3 linked regions of the Homo sapiens genome follow. The protein of the gene in region 1 purifies or fractionates together with the protein of each later gene. This does not show direct contact. Each region holds a gene or a part of one and is shown in the gene's direction. Other genes may lie near its edges.

Evidence for each region.
Region 2: the proteins of DKK2 (region 1) and ARID4A purify together in Homo sapiens (affinity purification with mass spectrometry; one large-scale study listed by BioGRID and IntAct). This does not show direct contact.
Region 3: the proteins of DKK2 (region 1) and PKLR purify together in Homo sapiens (affinity purification with mass spectrometry; one large-scale study listed by BioGRID and IntAct). This does not show direct contact.

What each region holds. Positions count from the first base shown.
Region 1 is NC_000004.12:107,034,142-107,037,891, reverse strand, and holds the start of DKK2 (dickkopf-related protein 2 precursor), read left to right. Parts: upstream 1-1,578; 5' UTR 1,579-2,300; coding exon 2,301-2,522; intron 2,523-3,750. UniProt on the Homo sapiens protein: Antagonizes canonical Wnt signaling by inhibiting LRP5/6 interaction with Wnt and by forming a ternary complex with the transmembrane protein KREMEN that promotes internalization of LRP5/6.
Region 2 is NC_000014.9:58,357,470-58,361,119, forward strand, and holds part of ARID4A (AT-rich interactive domain-containing protein 4A), read left to right. Parts: intron 1-1,662; coding exon 1,663-1,747; intron 1,748-3,431; coding exon 3,432-3,573; coding exon of another isoform or gene 3,574-3,633; intron 3,634-3,650.
Region 3 is NC_000001.11:155,291,289-155,294,938, reverse strand, and holds part of PKLR (pyruvate kinase PKLR), read left to right. Parts: intron 1-186; coding exon 187-457; intron 458-553; coding exon 554-704; coding exon of another isoform or gene 705-724; intron 725-1,348; coding exon 1,349-1,501; intron 1,502-1,595; coding exon 1,596-1,762; intron 1,763-3,001; coding exon 3,002-3,183; intron 3,184-3,650. UniProt on the Homo sapiens protein: Pyruvate kinase that catalyzes the conversion of phosphoenolpyruvate to pyruvate with the synthesis of ATP, and which plays a key role in glycolysis.

The sequences.
Region 1 (3,750 bases):
CTTAAAGAAAGGAAATTCAAAAGATAAGAACACATGCCAGAGGGTGCATATTTTAATCCCCGTTTCCTTGTGTATTAAAAAAAAAATCTGAAAATGAAGAATTTCAGGGCAGACAGACTCATAGGTCAGGACTGAGAAATTTGCAAAACTGGAGCTGTCTGGGAGAAAATAGCTCTAAATCCACACTTTAGAACTCTGCGTTGTTTTGGGGGAAAATAAGAGTCACCAACGTTCTCACTTAGCGACAAGTTTAATTCGTACTCATGGACATGCGCCAGGATCAGGTGTGAAAGCTGTGAAATCTAGGTCCAAAAATTCTGAAGAGGATGCTGCTTGTATCCTCCCCTGGCGGCTAGCTGCCTTCTAACTTCAAGTTGTGGCTCAATGCTTGGATTTCTCTGCTCCTGGACATTAGTGTCTGCGAAGCAGAAATGCAATAACTTTCGAACAATCCCTTGCTTTGCTTGGAAAGTCTCGCACTTGGCCACCAGACATCACCGAACTCAGCGCTTGTCTCCTGCAGCAATTCCGTGGCTCGCTGAACGGCTGCCACTGGCGCCCCCAAGCGCCAGCGCGTCCCAGTCGTTCCCGGAGCAGCCTTCGACCTTCGGCCGAAGGGAATTGGACCTGGAGAGACCCGGGGGCTGACAGGAATGGCTTCTCTTGTAATTCACTGGGGCTAGAAGGCAGGAAGCCAAGGAAGACAGGATCTCAAAGGCTCCCTGCCCCCGTTCATTCCTATCTGGGATTTCCTATTCGCAAAAAGAGCAGTTGCCTGGCATGGTAAAGATGCTCATTCGAGCTGTGAGGTCCAAACCCTTGGAGCGTACCCAGAGCATCCCCTTCTTCCCAGTCCCTCAGAGACATAGACATATTCTACGAGTGCGGCGGGGCCCGGGGTTCCGAAGGAGGAGACTAAAAAGACCCAAATCGAACAGGCTCATCTTTTCCCCTCTTTGGTCTGCCCCTTTCCTTCCAGACCCTCTATCCGGATCATTGGCCACCCCCTGGCGCACCTATGTGGCTCCAGCTTCACACACTCCCTGGGAGGCACAGTCTAAAACCAAACGTGAGCTCACAAAGAACACAATACTAATGAGCAGATGCGCAGATGCTCACTTCTCTAAAGCTTCCATAGGGCTTTTCCAGCTCTCCTCGCGGAGTCAGGGGCTGAAGATGGGTGGGAAGATCTAAGAAAGGGTGGCAGCGATCAAGTGGTGTCAGCTTGCCCCACTCCGTTTCCACCTTTGGTCTCTGCCAGTTTCCAAAGACCCCTCCAACCGCTGGAGTTGTTGTCAGGAATTAGGAGCCCCTATGTTCCATTCACCTCATGGAAAAGCTAGATCCCCCTTTTCCAGTAGTTGTGGGTGGAGACAGAGCGGGAGGATGAGGAGGAGGAAAAGCTGGAGTGAAAGCCGCAGAAGCAGAAGCAGCACGCAGAGAGGAGGGGGGCGGAAGCGGTGGGGAGTGAGAGAAAAATTTTCACTCTTTGTCACTCTTGAATTGGGGGCGGAGGTAAAAAAAAAAAAAAAGTCCTCACTGTGGGAAGCTATAAAAAGCAAAGAGGACTGGGGAGAGAGCAGAGAGAGAGAAAGCGGGAGCCCGCGGCGAGCGTAGCGCAAGTCCGCTCCCTAGGCATCGCTGCGCTGGCAGCGATTCGCTGTCTCTTGTGAGTCAGGGGACAACGCTTCGGGGCAACTGTGAGTGCGCGTGTGGGGGACCTCGATTCTCTTCAGATCTCGAGGATTCGGTCCGGGGACGTCTCCTGATCCCCTACTAAAGCGCCTGCTAACTTTGAAAAGGAGCACTGTGTCCTGCAAAGTTTGACACATAAAGGATAGGAAAAGAGAGGAGAGAAAAGCAACTGAGTTGAAGGAGAAGGAGCTGATGCGGGCCTCCTGATCAATTAAGAGGAGAGTTAAACCGCCGAGATCCCGGCGGGACCAAGGAGGTGCGGGGCAAGAAGGAACGGAAGCGGTGCGATCCACAGGGCTGGGTTTTCTTGCACCTTGGGTCACGCCTCCTTGGCGAGAAAGCGCCTCGCATTTGATTGCTTCCAGTTATTGCAGAACTTCCTGTCCTGGTGGAGAAGCGGGTCTCGCTTGGGTTCCGCTAATTTCTGTCCTGAGGCGTGAGACTGAGTTCATAGGGTCCTGGGTCCCCGAACCAGGAAGGGTTGAGGGAACACAATCTGCAAGCCCCCGCGACCCAAGTGAGGGGCCCCGTGTTGGGGTCCTCCCTCCCTTTGCATTCCCACCCCTCCGGGCTTTGCGTCTTCCTGGGGACCCCCTCGCCGGGAGATGGCCGCGTTGATGCGGAGCAAGGATTCGTCCTGCTGCCTGCTCCTACTGGCCGCGGTGCTGATGGTGGAGAGCTCACAGATCGGCAGTTCGCGGGCCAAACTCAACTCCATCAAGTCCTCTCTGGGCGGGGAGACGCCTGGTCAGGCCGCCAATCGATCTGCGGGCATGTACCAAGGACTGGCATTCGGCGGCAGTAAGAAGGGCAAAAACCTGGGGCAGGTAGGAAAACCCCCAAACACATTCTTCAGACAGAAGAGGCAGGGGCCAGCTCTCTTGGGCTAGCGGTTTGCCATTGCATCTTGCAACATTCGGAGCGTGGCCCCAGATACAGAGAACAGGCGGCTGGGGAGGGATTCACCGAACAGGGTCTGCGTGGGCGGGGGGTGTCTGGGTGGCTGCTGGTCCTGCACTGCACGGAGTCAAAGGGTTAGGATTCTGTCTCGCCTTTGCTCTGGGGCGTGGGCACATATCAAGATCTAGTGCTTTCCTGTGGAGAAAGTGGTCAGGATGGTCCTTCCATTTAACACTGTGATGCAACTGATGAAGATGTTAATAGCATTTAACCTATAGCACCTAATAACGTGCCAGGCACAGTTCTAAGCGTTTTACATATTCACTCATTTAATCTTCACAACTCTGTGAGCTAGATGCTGTTGCTTTCCCATTCTGCTAATGAAGTAATTGAGGCACGGATTGATTAACGATTTGCCCAAGGCACACAGCTAGTATAAGTGGCAGAGAGGGATTTCAGTCTAGACATTGAGATACTGGGCGTTTAACCATTATATTTTACAATCTGGAGGGGACATTACTCCTTTTCAGGGTCTCCTTCCCTTCCAACCACTTACTCTCTTCAAAGAAGTAAGGTCACAGACAAAACAACTCCAGTAGACGCGCATTTCTCACTCACGCAGAATTGTACATAAATCACCCGGAAGGAAGCAAAATGATGAGATGACAATGACAGCGTCGTAGGCGCCAGCGATACAGCAGGACACTGAAGGCGTTTTTGAGAGAGGGAACTTTCCGCAGGCGCCTCTGTCTCTGTCATACAGACAGATAGATTGAAAGCCACTTGCAAACTGTTATACAAATAGACACGCACAGAGACGAGCGCGCACACTCGGTACCAGTTGTGGCTGGCGCGCTGTGGCCAGGAGAGGGGGCTCTGTGGGCACTGGGAATCATGACAGCTCCCCCTTCCGCTCCTTTTGTGGGAAGCCAAAACTGAGAAAGCCATTTTACCAATGGCACACGCACCTCGCACAACACAAGTGTCAACCCCTGGCAGCGGCCCACGCCCCAGAGATCCGAGTTTCCTTGGAACCGACTGATGCTGCTGTTTTGCGCGCTCTCGGTGTCCTCCGCCGCCCCTGTCCACAGCGCAGCCAGCCGGCTGAAGGTTGGTTGAGAGGGCCGAGCCATTCTGGGATGGACAGAGAGACAA
Region 2 (3,650 bases), on another chromosome or scaffold:
TTTCTATTAATACGCTACAGTCTAAAACAAGTTTGTCCAACCTGTGGCCCACAAGCCATATGCAGCCCAGCATGGCCTGGAATGTGGCCCAACACAAATTCATAAACTTTCTTAAAACATGAGTTTTTTTTATTTTTTTGCATGGTTTTTTTTTTTTTTTTTAGCTCATCAGCTATCGTTAGTGTTATTTTATGTGTGGCCCAAGACAATTCTTCTTCCATTGTGGCCCAGAGAAGCCAAAAGATTGGACATTCCTGGTCTAAAGCAAGGACTGCCTGTTGTTTCTTTACTTAACTGTACATTTTTTAGATTTTGACTTAATTCTGTAAATACTTGTATATTTAGATAATGTAAAAACTGTTATTTAGTTCTAGAAACCTTAATTTCTTATTTGCCCCTGATTAGTCACTTGGACTATAGACAATCAAAAGTGATAGTAATCATTTGAGAAGGCCAGGTGCAATGGCTCATGCCTGTAATCCTAGCACTTTGGGAGGCTGAGGTGGGCAGATCACTTGAGCTCCGGAATTCAAGACCAGCCTGGGCAACATGGCAAAACCCGTCTCTATAAAAAATACAAAAATTAGCTTGGTGCAATGGTGTACATCCGTGGTCTCAGCTACTCAGGAGGCTGAGGTGGGAGGATCATCTGAGCCCAGGAGATCATGCCTCTGCACTCCATCCTGGGCAACAGAGTGAGACCCTCTCTAAAAAAATTGCCGGGTCCAGTGGCTCACCCCTATAATCCCAGCACTTTGGGAGACTGAGGTGAGCAGGTCACCTGAGGTCAGGAGTTCGAGACCAGCATGGCCAACATGGCGAAACCCCGTCTCTACGAAAAATAAAAAATTAGCGGGGTGTGGTGGCAGGCACCTGTAATCCCAGATATTGGGAGGCTGAGGCATGAGAATCACTTGAACCCAGGAGGCAGAGGTTCCATTGAGCCGAGATGGCACCACTGCATGTCAGCCTGGGTGACAACATTGAAACTAGCCCCCCAAAAATAAAAATAAAATTTAAAATAAATTTTAAAATAAATTTTTAAGTAAATGTTTAGGGGAAATGAGTTTTCAACTTAAGCTAAACAGAATAAACTTAGATAAAGTAGGTGAAATACAGATATCTCTAAAAAATTTCAGAATCCTAAAGGCAATGTAGTTCAGAAGATTTTATTGGAAATACTAGAGAGAGTGTTGAGGAGGAAAAGGAAGTTGAAATGGACTTGATAAAATAACTTGATAAAATAACCTGAAACTGATCACCTTGCAAATTTGAATTTATCTGACTTAGCTTTCTATTATTCATTCAATAGCACGAATTCTATTGCAGATCTGATTATAAGCTCAGGTCTGTAAAAGCTGTGGAAAACAAAACAGTTCAGATTGTCTTGAATCTAGAGTTTGCTTTCCAAGACTCTCCCTCTAAACCTGTTAACTCTTAAGAAATCCTCTTGCCTTTCCCTAGTGAGTATACAAAATACCTACTACAGTTACTGGCACATGTTACCAGCAAACCAGCCCCTGTGCCCTTCATATTCTTGCCAACACTAAGAACAAACTATTTAATCTGTCTCACTGTTGTTTTCGTTTGGTGAATACATTTCAAAAAGGTTATAATGTATAAAGTTTGTACAAACTCTTTTTTTTTTTTTTTTTTTTTAAGGTATGATGAGTGGGTGAAGGCTGACAGGATAATCTGGCCTTTGGACAAAGGTGGACCAAAGAAAAAACAGAAGAAAAAAGCTAAAGTATGTTTGTAGATTTATGTCCTTTATAATATGTATAGGAATTATCCAAATTGTATTGTGTGTTTTTTAAGACTTTAAGAACAGTTTTAGGTTTATACCAAGATTGAGAGCAAGGTATATAGACCTCCCATATACTCTCTGCCCCATGCATGCATAGCCTTCCCAGATTGTCAACATCCCCCACCAGAGTGGGATGTTTGTTACAACTGATGTGCCTACATTGACACATTATTGTCACTCAGAGTCCATCGTTTACATTAGGGTTCACTGTTGGTGTTGTATATTCTGTAGGTTTTGACAAATATATAATGACATGGATCCATCACTATAGTATCATACAGAGTAGCTTTACTGCCCTAAAAATCCTTTATGTTCTGCTTATTCTTACCCCCACCCCAGCCCCTGACAACTACAGACTTTTTCTCTCTCCATAGTTTTTGCCTTTTTGAGAATATCATATAATTGGAATCATACACCATATAGCCTTTTTAGATTGGCTTCTTTTGCTTAGTAATATGCATATACGATATTGTGTTTGTTTAATAAATCTTATTGTAATAATCATCTTGGCCGGGCATGGTGGCTCATGCCTGTAATGCCAGCACTTTGGGAGGCTGAGGCGGGCGGATCACGAGGTCAGGAGATCAAGACCATCCTGGCTAACACGGTGAAACCCCATCTCTACTAAATATAGAAAAAATTAGCCGGTCGTGGTGGCCGGCGCCTGTAGTCCCAGCTACTCGGGAGGCTGAGGCAGGAGAATGGCGTGAACCCAGGAGGCGGAGCTTGCAGTGAGCCAAGATCGCGCCACTGCGCTCCAGCCTGGGCGACAGAGCAAGACTCCGTCTCAAAAAAAAAAAAAAAAATCTTGATTCTTGACAGATAATTGTGATTTTCTCTTTATAACCCAGGAGCTTAAAACTAACACATTACCACATTGTTTCAGCAAAGGTGAAAACCAGCAACCCCTAGGGCATGACTTTCAAACTCAAATTCCTGTAGAGGCTTTATAGGAGAAGGATAAAGTAGGACGAACCGTGACAAACGAGAGGTCACATTCCTCATTTAGACGGAATGGAACTAACCACTCTGCTGTGGGAATGCAGACCCAGGGTTGCCAGATTTTAGGATTTTTCAAGACCACTATCTTTCTTAAAATGTGAAATTTGACTTTTAAATGCTAGAAGCCAATACTAAAATTTTAAAACACATATATACTGGCCAATTGTACCCTCACCCACATCCTCAGTTGTCAAGCTTTGCTGTAGAGATTTGCCCATTGTTTTGTCTACTGGATGATAGATATCTTTCCTTTCTGCAGGGGATAGTAGGGAACAGCGGGGAGTGCGGAATAGTTGTATAGTCTTCTAAAGCTCTAACTGACCATCACAATATAATTGCAGTATTACAAATTGTACAATATTGTATTTACATAAATACAAAATATGTTAGAAATTCAGCAGTGGAGGATTATATACCAATTTCCGTGACACTAATGTTAATAAGTTCTGATAACCTCTCAGACCAGCCAGAAAACTCTTCTTGATTCTTCTGTAAGCACAGACTAGGAAGTGACATATAAAATATCAAACCTTTTTTGAGATGTAGTTTTCTTTGGATAAGTAGAATGTTCATTTTTCGTAAAGCATTGGCCCTTCTCATACATTTTGTTGTTGTTGCCCAGAATAAAGAAGATAGTGAAAAGGACGAAAAGAGAGATGAGGAGAGGCAGAAGTCAAAACGGGGACGACCTCCTTTAAAATCAACCCTCTCATCAAACATGCCGTATGGCTTATCTAAGACAGCAAACAGTGAAGGAAAATCAGGTACCAGAAGTGCTCGCAGCAATATACCAGACAGCTCACCTCTGTCAAATGGAATGGAAGGTGCTCAATTTTGAGGA
Region 3 (3,650 bases), on another chromosome or scaffold:
ATGGGTGGGTCGTTTCTTCCACGGACGTCCATCTGTGCCTCTTCCGGGCGAAGCCCAGAACAAGGGCGGAGAGATGAGGAGGACATGGTTCCTGACCTCTTGCGGGTCCAAGCCCCAGTGTCCTCTCTGCTGCAACTGTGCCCCGTCCTCACCCCTGACCGCAGCTGGCTCTTTCCATGTCCGCAGGCCCAGAGGGACTGGTGACCCAAGTGGAGAACGGCGGCGTCCTGGGCAGCCGGAAGGGCGTGAACTTGCCAGGGGCCCAGGTGGACTTGCCCGGGCTGTCCGAGCAGGACGTCCGAGACCTGCGCTTCGGGGTGGAGCATGGGGTGGACATCGTCTTTGCCTCCTTTGTGCGGAAAGCCAGCGACGTGGCTGCCGTCAGGGCTGCTCTGGGTCCGGAAGGACACGGCATCAAGATCATCAGCAAAATTGAGAACCACGAAGGCGTGAAGAGGTGAGGCTTGGGCTCTGTTCCCCTTCGGCCCTGTCGCTATTCCCCATCACCTTTCTTCTCCTGCCTGCCTCTGCCTTGATTCTCCCAACCTCTCAGGTTTGATGAAATCCTGGAGGTGAGCGACGGCATCATGGTGGCACGGGGGGACCTAGGCATCGAGATCCCAGCAGAGAAGGTTTTCCTGGCTCAGAAGATGATGATTGGGCGCTGCAACTTGGCGGGCAAGCCTGTTGTCTGTGCCACACAGGTCTGGAGTGAGGCCTTGAGGTTCGGCACTCTGTGGGTTTTAGGGACACCTGTGGGTGAATACCCACACTGTAGGGGTTTATTTTGTTTTGTTTTGTTTTTTGAGACGGAGTCTCACTCTGTCATCCAGGCTGGAGTGCAGTGGCGCAATCTCCGCTCACTGCAACCTCCGCCTCTTGGGTTCAAACAATTCTCCTGCCTCAGCCTCCCAAGTAGTGGGGATTACAGGTGACCGCCGCCATGCCAGGCTACTTTTTGTATTTTCAGTAGAGACGGGGTTTCACCATGTTGGCCAGACTGGTCTCGAACTCCTGACCTCAGGTGATCTACTCGCCTCGGCCTCCCAAAGTGCTGGGATTACAGGTGTGAGCCACTGCACCCAGCCCACACTGTAGGTTTATAGCACATTTGGATGAAAAGTGTTTGATCCTCAAACGACAAAGTTAAATATACTTTGACCCCTATTTTCAGGGGTTGTGACCAAACGACAAAGTTAAATATACTTTGACTCCTATTTTCAGGGGTTGTGACTGTGACCCTGGATTTTGGGACACTCTGAGAGTGTGGGTGTCAGAGAAGTAGCTTGGGCAGGGTCCCCAGTCACAGTGTGAGTCCTACAACTTTGACATCCACGCTGTCCCCCAGATGCTGGAGAGCATGATTACCAAGCCCCGGCCAACGAGGGCAGAGACAAGCGATGTCGCCAATGCTGTGCTGGATGGGGCTGACTGCATCATGCTGTCAGGGGAGACTGCCAAGGGCAACTTCCCTGTGGAAGCGGTGAAGATGCAGCATGCGGTAGGAGCTCAGAATGAAAAGCAAATGGGCCAGGGAACCAAATCCCTTCCATACCCCAGTGCCCCTTCCCAGACTAACATTCTGGCACCTGCAGATTGCCCGGGAGGCAGAGGCCGCAGTGTACCACCGGCAGCTGTTTGAGGAGCTACGTCGGGCAGCGCCACTAAGCCGTGATCCCACTGAGGTCACCGCCATTGGTGCTGTGGAGGCTGCCTTCAAGTGCTGTGCTGCTGCCATCATTGTGCTGACCACAACTGGCCGGTGAGGGGGATATTGGGAATGTCCAGATGGAGCTTTGGGTCAGGGGTGGGCTGGGACGGGCCCCAGGCTTGGGTTTAGTCTGGTCACCAGGGGTGAAGAGTGTCCACCTGAGACAAGAGGAGAGGCAGCAATGACAGCTGGAGGCCAGGAGAGACAGAATGCCAGTGAGCTTCTGGGGGCTGGAAGGGGACAGCGGCATCACTGGGCACATTGGCTTCAAGGCCATTTGGGCTTCTGGGGCTCAGAGGCAAGTCCATTCGGCCCACAGAGCCTACCAATACTGAGGTATTACAGAAGGGTCCAGTAGGTCTGAGTTTAAGTCTTTACTCAGAAATGTAGCTCTATTAGCCTGCTGTCTTTCCTCATGAACAGGACAAGGTAATGATTTGTTCTTCATGGGGTTGGCAGGATTAACAGGAGATATTAAGTACTAGATAGTACTTAATATCTATATAGTAAATTAAGCACATAATGGACTTTCTCAAAAGGGTTTTATACTCTTGGGTTTTTGTTTGTTTGTTTTGTTTTGTTTTTCTTTTGAGAACGGCAGCTCGCTCTGTTGCTCAGGCTGGAGTAAAATGGTGCAATCTCAGCTCACCACAACCTTCACCTCCCAAGTTCAAGTGATTCTCCTGCCTCAGCCTTCCGAGTAGCTGGGATTACAGGCGCATGCCACAACGCCCTGCATATTTTTTGTATTTTTAGTAGAGACAGGGTTTCATCATGTTAGCCAGGCTGGTCTCAAACTCCTGACCTCAGGTGATCCACCCTCCTTGGCCTCCCAAAGTGCTGGGATTATAGGCATGAGCCACTGTGCCTGGCCAGCTTTTATATTTCTTAAAGAGATTTCTCCTTATTATCTCATTTGATATATCTGTATTATCTCATATCTTTCTTGTGTGGTAGGGAGGGCAGGCATTCTTTCTTTTTTTTTTCTTAATGCAGAGATGGGGTCTCACTATGTTGCCTAGGCTGGTCTCCAGCTCCTGGGCTCAAACAATTCTCCCATCTCGGCCTCCCAAAGTGCTGGGATTACAGGCATGAGCCACCGCTCCCGGCCTGGGAGGCAGGCATTCTTACACTCATTTTACAGGTGAGAACACCAAGGCCCAGAGAAGTATGATGACTTACCCAGGGTCACACAGCTTGTTAGTGACACCTGGAACTGGAACAAAGATTCTCCTTTCCTCGTTCACCACTTTCTTGCTGTTCTGGGCTGACCTTCTCTGCCTCCTCCAGCTCAGCCCAGCTTCTGTCTCGGTACCGACCTCGGGCAGCAGTCATTGCTGTCACCCGCTCTGCCCAGGCTGCCCGCCAGGTCCACTTATGCCGAGGAGTCTTCCCCTTGCTTTACCGTGAACCTCCAGAAGCCATCTGGGCAGATGATGTAGATCGCCGGGTGCAATTTGGCATTGAAAGTGGTGAGCTACCTAGACCTTCCCTGCCACTCCTACCATTTGTATCAGGAGCCCCCCAACCCAGCTTCCCATACCCACTCAAAGGGCCTTGCCTCTCTCCTGTGGTCCCAGGTTTTCCCTGTGAGAGTCACTAAGACTGAGATATCAGTCTGGCATATCACAAATACCTCTTCCATCAGCATAGCCACACAGGCAGACGGCCGTGCTACTTAGCAACACACTCTGCCCTAGCCCACAGATACTCCTGCACCTTTTTTTTTTTTTGAGAGAGAGTCTTGCTCTGTCGCCAGGCTGGAGTGCAGGGGTACGATCTCGGCTCACTGCAATCTCTGCCTCCTGGGTTCAAGTGATTCTCCCACCTCAGCCTCCTGAGTAGCTGGGACTACAGGCATGCGCCACCACGCCTGGATAATTTTTGTATTTTTAGTAGAGACAGGGTTTCACCATGTTGGCCAGGATGGTCTCAATGT